Linked DNA regions of Homo sapiens: region 1 is linked to region 2. Evidence: fine-mapped expression QTL. Tissue or cell type: whole blood. Region 2 holds a variant in brackets; the other region holds the start of a gene. All regions are shown on one strand. Distances are from middle to middle.

The links. PIP is the estimated chance that this variant, and not a neighbour inherited with it, causes the effect.
Region 1: GSK3B starts here. The variant in region 2 is fine-mapped to the expression of GSK3B in whole blood (TOPMed, PIP 0.93).

Annotation. Positions count from the first base shown.
Region 1 is chr3:120,091,607-120,096,754 of GRCh38, reverse strand. GSK3B (glycogen synthase kinase 3 beta) reads left to right here and starts at 2,308. Exons shown (of 11, transcript NM_001146156.2): 1 at 2,308-3,408. The coding sequence starts at 3,321. It overlaps GSK3B-DT (GSK3B divergent transcript), which reads right to left and starts at 1,651. Exons shown (of 3, transcript NR_186629.1): 1 at 977-1,651. RefSeq lists enhancers at 1,200-1,519, 1,799-2,093, 1,720-2,129.
Region 2 is chr3:119,814,734-119,819,881 of GRCh38, reverse strand. It overlaps NR1I2 (nuclear receptor subfamily 1 group I member 2), which reads right to left. Exons shown (of 9, transcript NM_003889.4): 6 at 4,761-4,903; 7 at 4,443-4,559; 8 at 4,051-4,156; 9 at 1,395-2,814. The coding sequence ends at 2,670. Among named protein-coding and RNA genes, the nearest start is that of NR1I2, 35 kb to the right of the region's middle. RefSeq lists an enhancer at 3,718-4,218. The variant C/T (reference allele first, on the strand shown) is at 2,300.

The DNA.
Region 1 (5,148 bases), 280 kb before region 2:
TGAGGCAGGAGAATCACTTGAATCGGGGAGGCGGAGGTTGCGGTGAGCCGAGATCGCGCCACTGCACTCCAGCCTGGGCAACAAGAGTGAAACTCCGTCTCAAAAATAAATAAATAAATAAAGATACATTTCAATTATTTAAGGTCCCAAACCATTTTGTTTTCACCCTCCTACTGCTATCGGGCCCCTAACAATTATTAACACTTTTTCCAATGCCTCATTGGCCAAGGGATGTTTTTAGGTTGGCCTGCAGGGTTTGAAAATTTGGTTACCAACATTTAAAAATGCAGAGATTTCACACAAAAATCCAATTTTGGGGTTTCTTTTGGGAGGAAAAAAATTGAACATCTGAGAACACTGGACCCACATTCCTGAGGGCAACAATCTGCTAGAGTTGAGCAGCTGTTCCTTTTAGTTATGGCATGGATATTCCAATTTGCCATTTTCCCTATCATTCCCCATTGTCTTACACAAGGCCAGTCTCACTCATTTGCTTTACTTGTCTGGCCTCTGTAGCCATTTGAATCTGCAAACACTATCTAGACCTTTCCTGTCTTCCATCAAAGCTTACTTTGTTCTGTCCCAAGTCCTTCATCAGTGTTTCAAAGCAAGAGCCAGGTAATCTGATCAAATATAGGTCCTTTAACATGTGCTTTCTGGAGACAGCATCTTAACAGAAAGAGATGACTCTGCAGGTAGAAATTACAGGCACCACTGGATTACAATCAGGATGGCAACTGTCTGTTCTACTTTCTCTGTTATCTTGACGTAGCCATACCTCACTGTTCTAAAGCAGACCAAAGGAACTGGTTCTATGGTAGAACAATGGACGCTGGTCTTATGTATGAAATCTTCTCAAGCTGCACTTTTATAGATCACCCTAGTTCCAAAAGATCCAAAGCTACCACGGGCTCCTCTGACCCCCCCATTTCCTCGGAGGCTTCAGGATATCCGGCCTGACGGCATTTCCCCTCACCTGCTTTCGGGGCCCGTTTTGCGCTGGGCAGTTGCGCCCAAGGAGCGCGCGCATCCAGCATGAGCTCATTTCTCATGGGCGTTTCCAGAGGCCCGGCCGGGCCGCGCACACCAAGCGCAGCAAGCCTCTGTATCAATGGCCCCCGCGGCTGGGCGGGGCGCGGCCGCCCAAAGGCGCTGCCTTTCTGGAAGCTTTGTTCCCATTTTAGCGTCTGAGAGCTTGCAGCCGGCTGGGAAGGCCCCCTTGGTCCGTCTGGCCCTTTCGGGGAAGAGGCCAACACTCGGCACACGCGATCCACGGCAGAGGGGAGCCTTGGGCGCGCAGAATTGGCTGCGCCCCGCCGAGAGCCTCCTGTGGGTGGGGAGAGCCCCTCCACCCCTCTGCTCGCTTGAGCGCTCAGAGCCCAGGGCCGCCGACCGCAGCACTTTCCGATTTGCTGCACCGAGGGCCCGCGGTCCCTGTGTGCGGTTTCCACCGTTGTTGGAGGCGGCCGCAGGCGAACCGTCGGGTCGTCAGCCACGACCCGAGTCAGGCATCTCCCCGCTCCTGGGACCGGGGCCGAAGGCCAATCACACTGCAGCTAGGTCTTGCGATTGGACGGCAGTGAGAGCCGATTGGCCGCCGCCGCGAGTTTCGGGCTCCCTCCCTCTCCCTTTTGCCCCAACTCCAGCGCCTAAGCTTCAGGCCAATGAGACAGCGCTTTATAGACGCCCTCCCTTCGCTTTCTTCTCCCCACCTTGGAGAGGGAGGGGAAGTCCTGACTGGCCAGACTGTCCTCGGAAGCCCCCTTCTCTTCACCAATCACCGAAGGAGGTACGCTCCCAGCGGAGTTTTCCAGCCAATCACAAAGCGGCGGCGGCGCCCAGCCGTGCAGTTTCACCAGCGTCTCTGGGTTTCACCGTCCTCAACTCTTCAAGCCTCTTCGTAAGGGCCGGCGACTCTGATTGGCCACTGTTGCCATTGTCGAATGTCTCCTCCAGCCAGCCACCGAACAAGGCGAATTCACCCTTTCCGTTCGGCTACCTTCGGCATTTTCCGCTCTTTGGGCGTGGCTTCCCAGCGTCACTTTCTAATTGGTTTCTCAGGCTGATCGGCTTTTTCCGGGAGGAGCCGCAAACAAACGACGTCCGTGATTGGCTCCGTTCGGGCTTCGGCTCCCAGCCGAAGCGGGCGAGCGTGGGGCTCGGCCGGCGATTCCCAGACGCCTGTTACGCGGGCGGCGGGGCGCTGGGCGGTGTAAGGCTGGGTGGGGGAGGAAGGAGGTGGAGGACGAGTAGGAGGGGGGAGGAGGAGTGGGGAAGTGCAAGGCGGCTGCGCAGACAGCGCTCCTCACACAGAGCAGCTCCTGACCCGGGCGAATGCGGGCTTGTGCCGCCGCCGCCGCCGCCGCCGCCCGGGCCAAGTGACAAAGGAAGGAAGGAAGCGAGGAGGAGCCGGCCCCGCAGCCGCTGACAGGGCTCTGGGCTGGGGCAAAGCGCGGACACTTCCTGAGCGGGCACCGAGCAGAGCCGAGGGGCGGGAGGGCGGCCGAGCTGTTGCCGCGGACGGGGGAGGGGGCCCCGAGGGACGGAAGCGGTTGCCGGGTTCCCATGTCCCCGGCGAATGGGGAACAGTCGAGGAGCCGCTGCCTGGGGTCTGAAGGGAGCTGCCTCCGCCACCGCCATGGCCGCTGGATCCAGCCGCCGCCTGCAGCTGCTCCTGGCGCAATGAGGAGAGGAGCCGCCGCCACCGCCACCGCCCGCCTCTGACTGACTCGCGACTCCGCCGCCCTCTAGTTCGCCGGGCCCCTGCCGTCAGCCCGCCGGATCCCGCGGCTTGCCGGAGCTGCAGCGTTTCCCGTCGCATCTCCGAGCCACCCCCTCCCTCCCTCTCCCTCCCTCCTACCCATCCCCCTTTCTCTTCAAGCGTGAGACTCGTGATCCTTCCGCCGCTTCCCTTCTTCATTGACTCGGAAAAAAAATCCCCGAGGAAAATATAATATTCGAAGTACTCATTTTCAATCAAGTATTTGCCCCCGTTTCACGTGATACATATTTTTTTAGGATTTGCCCTCTCTTTTCTCTCCTCCCAGGAAAGGGAGGGGAAAGAATTGTATTTTTTCCCAAGTCCTAAATCATCTATATGTTAAATATCCGTGCCGATCTGTCTTGAAGGAGAAATATATCGCTTGTTTTGTTTTTTATAGTATACAAAAGGAGTGAAAAGCCAAGAGGACGAAGTCTTTTTCTTTTTCTTCTGTGGGAGAACTTAATGCTGCATTTATCGTTAACCTAACACCCCAACATAAAGACAAAAGGAAGAAAAGGAGGAAGGAAGGAAAAGGTGATTCGCGAAGAGAGTGATCATGTCAGGGCGGCCCAGAACCACCTCCTTTGCGGAGAGCTGCAAGCCGGTGCAGCAGCCTTCAGCTTTTGGCAGCATGAAAGTTAGCAGTGAGTATTGGTTTTATTTTACACCCCTTTTCCACCTCGCCCTTAAAATAAGAAACCTCGAAATACCAGGATCTGAAATTATTAGACCTCCTGATAAACAGGCAATGGAAAAGGGCAAAACCTATCTTCAGTCAAGGATGAAGCAGCTCCCTTTTTACTCCTCCCATACCCCCTCCCCCGGTCTCATTAACCTTGAATTGAGATAATATGATATTTATTTGGATGATTCGATTTCAAACTGCTTTCTTGTACTTTTCTTGCTGTTGGTAGTCAGTTTCATCAAGTGCTCGAGTGTTTCCACGTTAAAGTAGTGATGACAGTGTTTACTTGCCCATCCTTTAGAATAAAGAGAAGGACAAGATTTGATTACTAAACCATTATGCACATTTGCAGAATTTTTGGAATTTGGAATGAGAGAATATTTTAGGTCTCAGGGGTTATCATAGTTTGATATACTTAATAGAGACGTTAAATGTCCCACCCTCCCAACATTTTTTTCTTGTTTGTATGACTACACATAATATTTGTTCTTAATCTGTGGATGAACTTCCTCAGTAACCATTCACATTTGGAGGCTGCCATTGATTTCTCTCTTTAGAAGGGACTAGTGGGAGCCAATAAATACCTAGCAGCAGTAACATCTCTGTATGCATTTGTGTTCAATTGGATAAGTGGTTTGATGTGTTATCTCTTAACCTTCCTGTTTTGACATTACCAACCTGCCACCGTATAATTTATGTTTAATCAAAAGTTAACTTGGAAGTATTAATAGGTCCAAGTTTTGATTGAGATTTGTTTTGTCATAGTGCCAAATACTAAGTTAAATGTTGTCACTGGCTCATTACATTTAAGTTCAATTTTGGAGTGCTACTGCATTCATTACCTGTTAAATGTTCTGGCGGGTTCCTTAAAAAGGACGATTTAAAACACTCTAGCGTTAGTTTCCATCATATTTAGATAACTGTGGATTTAGTTAGAAGAATGTGGATTTAGTCCTTTCCATTTTGGCTTTTGCAGATGGCTATGGTCCTAGAAATAATAGGGATATTTGGGCTGTGTTCAGGGTTGTGGATAGACTACTCTTGTCCTGGGTTTGTGCTGAAAAGTATGCTCTTGAAGTGTTTAATATATACTAAGTATCTAATGTTCCAGTGTATCTCTATTTATGGAGAAGTTCATGTGGTATTTAATGATAGCTTGTTTAAACATACTTGCAGAATTTAACAAAAATATCTATATTGTTTCCTTATTGTGGGAAAGAGGGGCATCATGAGGGCAAAGACAAATTAATTTGTTGCCTAGAAGAACTGAGAGAACTAAAGAACTGAGATTTTAAGAACCCACACACACGCAAAACATGATGTTATGTGAAATTGATTATATTCTTAGGCAACATAAAATGATCACTTTTAGTTGAACTCAAGATTTCAATTCATGTTGGCTTTGGGAACTAGCCTGAAACAGGGTAGTCTAGGTAATAGCTGAATGGGAGATAATTTTTGAAAGTTAATTTTTTTTTTTTCTTGTGGCTTGCAAGTAGAGAATGCCCGGGTAGGTAAAGAGGAAAGCTGATTATGCATCTTTCAGGGAAGGGTCGTGCTTTCTAAGCACTTCATGGAGTGATTTGAAAAATATTTTAAAATTCCGGGGTAATTTTCAGCTATGATGATACAAATCTTATAATAGCTACTTAAGAGCCTCTTGTGGTACTGGAGTGTTTGTATGTTTTACATCTTGGTA
Region 2 (5,148 bases):
TGAGCTTTGGAGACTGACTCCATCCTCTCCTCACTGACCCAGAAAAAAAAAAAAAAAAAAAAAGTGGTCACAAGGATGCCTAAAAACTGATGCTTAGTTCTGTTTACTCAAAAGTTCAGGGAAGGGAGTAAAGAAGAAACTCAAATGTTGGAGTAGGAAGGTTAAAATCTGGCTTCTAGTCCCATAAACTTGTGATCCACAGACCTACTGAAAGGAAGTACCCTATGTGAACTCTTCAGGGCATCTAACATTGAATCTTTCTTCACTCTTGAAATACATTTAGTTTTTATAATCTATATAAATTATATGTACATATCAATTCAATGTTTGGAGAACTACCCTGGAGTTTTTAAATCAAGACTGGGAGATGGAAATTTGCCCTCCATTCCATCTTAACCTCACCTTACCCTGTCCTACAGCTTACAACAGTTTCAGGCTCTTGAACAAATAGCACTCGAATCATTTCAGTAAGGAAAGGGAGATGCATATGATTTATGAATACACTGGAGTGAAATCTATCTTTCCAAATTAGAAATTTGTATTTCTAATTATAAATGGATTCATAATTAAAATTCCTGGGAGCAAAAGCTGCATTCATTGAGTTTGGAAAGAGAAGCTCTTTTTTTCCCTCAGTATCTTTTCTAAAAATAAGTGCTCCCTATATCTCCTTAATGCAGAAAAATCTGGTAAAGTCAGAGGGATGACAGAATATGTTTACTTGCTTTGATTTATATTACTGATGATTTACCATGTTCTCAAAGTTTGGCCTGCTTCTTGTAAAATGTCAAAAGCTAAGTAATTATCTGTTCTTTAAAATTCAGTTACTGTGAAGTTTCATTTGAATGAAATATTAGACATTTAAAATTAATTCCTACTTTTTTTTTTTTTTGAGACAGAGTCTCGCTCTTTCCCCCAGGCTGGAGTGCAGTGGCACGATCTCAGCTCACTGCAACCTCCGCCTGCCTGGTTCAAGTGATTCTCCCGCCACGGCCTCCCAAGTAGCTGAGACTACACGTGCCCAGCACCACACCTGGCTAATTTTTTGTATTTTTAGTAGAGACGGGGTTTCACTGTGTTAGCCAGGATGGTCTCGATCTTCTGACCTTGTGATCCGCCAGCCTTGGCCTCCCAAAGTGCTGGGATTACAGGCCTGAGCCACCTCGCCCGGACTACATTTTAATTATGGTATGCACATATGTTAAACTTTTATACAGAACAATCATTTTATAAGTAAGCCAAGTTAAATAATTCATTTTTATGTTCTTACGCCGGAGTCTTCAGATTTATACAGGATAATAATAAAATAAGTAGTAAAAATATGTATGCTTGCGTATGTTTCTATTTCCACACCCCCACATTATTTTCCCCAGAAAAAAGCCAAAAAAGTTTACCCCTCTAGCCAAAAGTACATTATTTAATTCCTTTTGCCTTGATTTGACATTAAACCCAGGGCTACATTTCCCAAAACTAGTTCTTAGGTGTGGAATGCCTTATATAAAGTATAATTTGTGAAAATGCAAAAAAATTTTTACTCACAAGTGGCTATAAACAAGGCAGGCACTTTCATACCCTTTAGCTTTGAGAATAGATGTGTACACAGAAATATAAGGTGCATGTAAATGGTTCTTCTCCGGTGTGTTTAACTGATTGTCAGCGTAGCCTTGTCACAGAGCATACCCAGCATTCCAGCCCCAGGAACAAACCCAGGCCCCATCAAGTGGCAAACAGACCTACCTACACCAAATCACACACACGCACTCACAGCTGCAGTTTGTGCCCTTGCTCCTACAGACTCATGTCCTTGGGAACCTTCACTTGGGTACCCAGTGCCCGCCATCACAGCTCAGCATCCACACAGGGAAATTCCTTGTGCTGCTTTTGTCACTTATCATTTCTCCTTTTGATCCAAATCGTTTGTGTTTCTGTTTGTTTTTTTAACTATAAACTCTGTGAGCTCAGGATCTATATCTGAGTCAATGCTGTATACCCCACAGCAGGCTACCTATTATCGGTGCTTAATAATGTGTTCAAATGGATGCAGAGACACAGAATGATGTGGCCGGAATGAGGTCATGCCAAGCTTCTGACATTTGGTGCAGGCCTCCTGGCTTCTCATCTCTCTAGAGGACTCCCACAGATACTCATGCGCCTGCCGATGAGTACAGGCCTGGAGCCCACAAAGCAGCTCGGAAGAGGAGGGGAACGAGTGGGAAGTGGGAGACAGGACTATTAGAGGTAGCAATGAAAAGACTCAGGAAGCGAACAAACGTGGGTATGTGGGCATAGACCCCAGATGGCC[C/T]ATCCTTGGTCGCTTGGTCCCTTCCACACCTTGACACTTTAGTGGGATCTGAGGGATTTCTCCCCAGACCACAGGGCCTTTTAAAAGGAAAGGGCAACCTTGCCTCTCTGATGGTCCTGACCTACAGGTCAGTGCACTCTCCACGTAAGAGTCTGTGGCTTCACTCCCTACAGACTGAACTGGGGGTGGGGGGCACCCATGTCCTTCCTGAGGAATGCTAGCCAGCTGTCATAGCAGGAATTCCCTAGGGAGACAGGCCAGCAGGGCATTGTCGGCTCTTGGCAGTGTCCATCTGTCTTGGCCCGGGAGTGGCGGCTCAGAGGGCTCTGGGTCTGGCTGCCTCTCGGAGGTGTCACCCAAGGGCAGCCGCTCAGCTACCTGTGATGCCGAACAACTCCTGCATGAGGGGCGTAGCAAAGGGGTGTATGTCCTGGATGCGCAGCAGCCGCTGGGTGTGCTGAGCATTGATGCTGCGGAGCTCGGTGAGCATAGCCATGATCTTCAGGAACAAGAACCTGCATGCCAGCCAGAGAAAAGATTGTGGGTGCAGCCCGCCCTGACCCACAAGCCTCAGGGCTGCTCTGAGGCTGCACAAGCATAATCTCTGGACATTTCAGGTCAGCCAAGAGACAAGGCTTGGCTGAATTCCGTAAGCTTCTCTTTTACCCTGTAGATGAGAAAGGCAGAACAGCCTGCCCAATACTCTCCCCACTCCCATCCCATTCATGGGAGCTGTGTCTTTTTTTTTTTTTTTTCTTTAAAGGGACAGGATCTCGTTCTGTCACCCAGGCTAGAGCATGATGGCACGATCATGGACTCACTGCAGTGTCAAACTCCTGGACTCAAGAGACCTCCAGCCTCAGCCTCCTGGGTAGCTAGGACTAGAGCACATGCCACCATACCTGGCTAATTTTTTAAAATTTTTCTAGAGTTGGGGTCTGGCTATGTTGCCTAGGCTGGTTTTGAACTCCTGGCCCCAAGGGATCCTCCTGTCTTGACCTCTCAAAGTGCTGGGATTATAGGTGTGAGCCACGACACCCAGCTGCGGGAGTTGCATCTTTGTACACAGAGACTTCCGTGGGAAAATGTAGATATTGCAGCTACCAGTTTGGGGGTGTGGGGCTGTCACTGCCTTCGTTAATGTCCAGGGGCCAGGACTGAGCAGAGTCGTTGTGGAGGTTAGGGGCTGCAGGCTGGAATCCCTTCCTGGAACTAGCTTTGGATCTAGTGTCTGAGATGTACCATATGCCTCAGTATCCCCATGATGGAAAAGAAAGTTGGCACTTCCAGCCTCCTGCCTCCATACAAGGAAGGGTTGAGCAAATAAAGACATGGCCACTCCCAGCATCCCAGGACACCAAGCCAAAAAGAAAGCTGTGCAGGCCAAATAAGGATTTCAGTTTATAGGTTCACACTATAATACTCAGTGTTGGCCTTAACCCTTCATGGCCTTGGGCTCCGTAAAATCCAAGTTTGTCTCTGGGTCTGTGGGCATCAGTCTGGGCAGTAGGTCACAGGAGCTACTGAGGACCAGTGAAGGTATAGAAGCCCCTTTCTGGGCCACGTCCCCCTGTTTGCTTGTGTTTTTCCTGGGAAGTGGTTAGGTAGTGCTCAAAAGTGTGAGCTTTGGACCTGGTCTGGCTGGGGCTACCTCCAGATGCCACCCTCTGGCCATGAAGTCTTGGGCAATTTCCCTGAACCTCGGCTCCCTCACATCACCCTCACGGGTCCTCACCCCCTGCTGTGCTCACCTATGAGCAGGCTGGGGCCGATTGCATTCAATGTAGGACTTCAGAGTAATGGCGAATTGCTCCTGCAGCTGGTCCACCACGCGGTGCTGCAGCACACCTGGGCGGTCTGGAGGGGAGGGAGGTGTGGTGCAAGATCATGGGGCAAAGACAAGCTCAGTCCAGCCCAGAGTCAGGGCATTGCTCGCCAACCACCCTCCAGAGCTGGAGTCACCCAGGCAGGGAAGTGAAGGAAGACCAGGGCTGGGCATCACCCACTGACCCCAGGAGAAACCAGCGAGAGCCCCCATCCTGGCTGCGCAGTGAATGAGGAGCAAGGCCATAGACTGGGACCTTCCCTGGGGAGGGCAGATAAGGCTGGGGGGGATGTCAGGCAGCCTAGGGGAGATCCTCACCTGGGGAGAAGAGGGAGATGGCCTGCATCAGCACATACTCCTCCTCATGCAGCTGCAGCTTCTTCAGCATGTAGTGGAATTTCAGCATGGGCTCCAGTAGAAGTTGCTGGAAGCCACCTGTGGATGGTAACAGGATGGAGGGGCAGCTTCTCAGCAAGCTGACCAAGATCTAATCATCCCTCACCAATATCTTGTTTTCCACCATTCCATCTTCCTGCCCTGCCATCCCAGAACCTGCATATCCTGGCGTAGCTCCCTTCCTCCCATAACTGCAGTGTTTCCCTCCCTCTGCCAGGGCAGGCAGGCTCTCTCGGGCACCTGCAGTGTCTTCCAAGCAGTAGGACAGCCGGCCACACTCCCAGGTTCCAGTCTCCGCGTTGAACACTGTGTTGAATCTCAGTTGACACAGCTCGAAAGCGGCCCCCTTCAGCAGGGAGATCTGGTCCTCGATGGGCAAGTCCCTGGCAGCAAGGATGGGGAGGGGAGGACAGCTCCCTGGGAGGCAGCCCACAGACCGGCACCAGCAGCCATCCCATAATCCAGAAGTTGGGGGCGAGAGGAAGAGGGAGGATGGCTCCTTTCCCTGAGGATGACTGTGGCTGCTGTCTGGCTGCCTCTCATCTCTCCCCTCACAACCCAGCAGACAGCTCTGCCCCGCAGCATCCTCTCCTCCCCTCCAACCTCCGGGAACTCCACCCACTGAGCT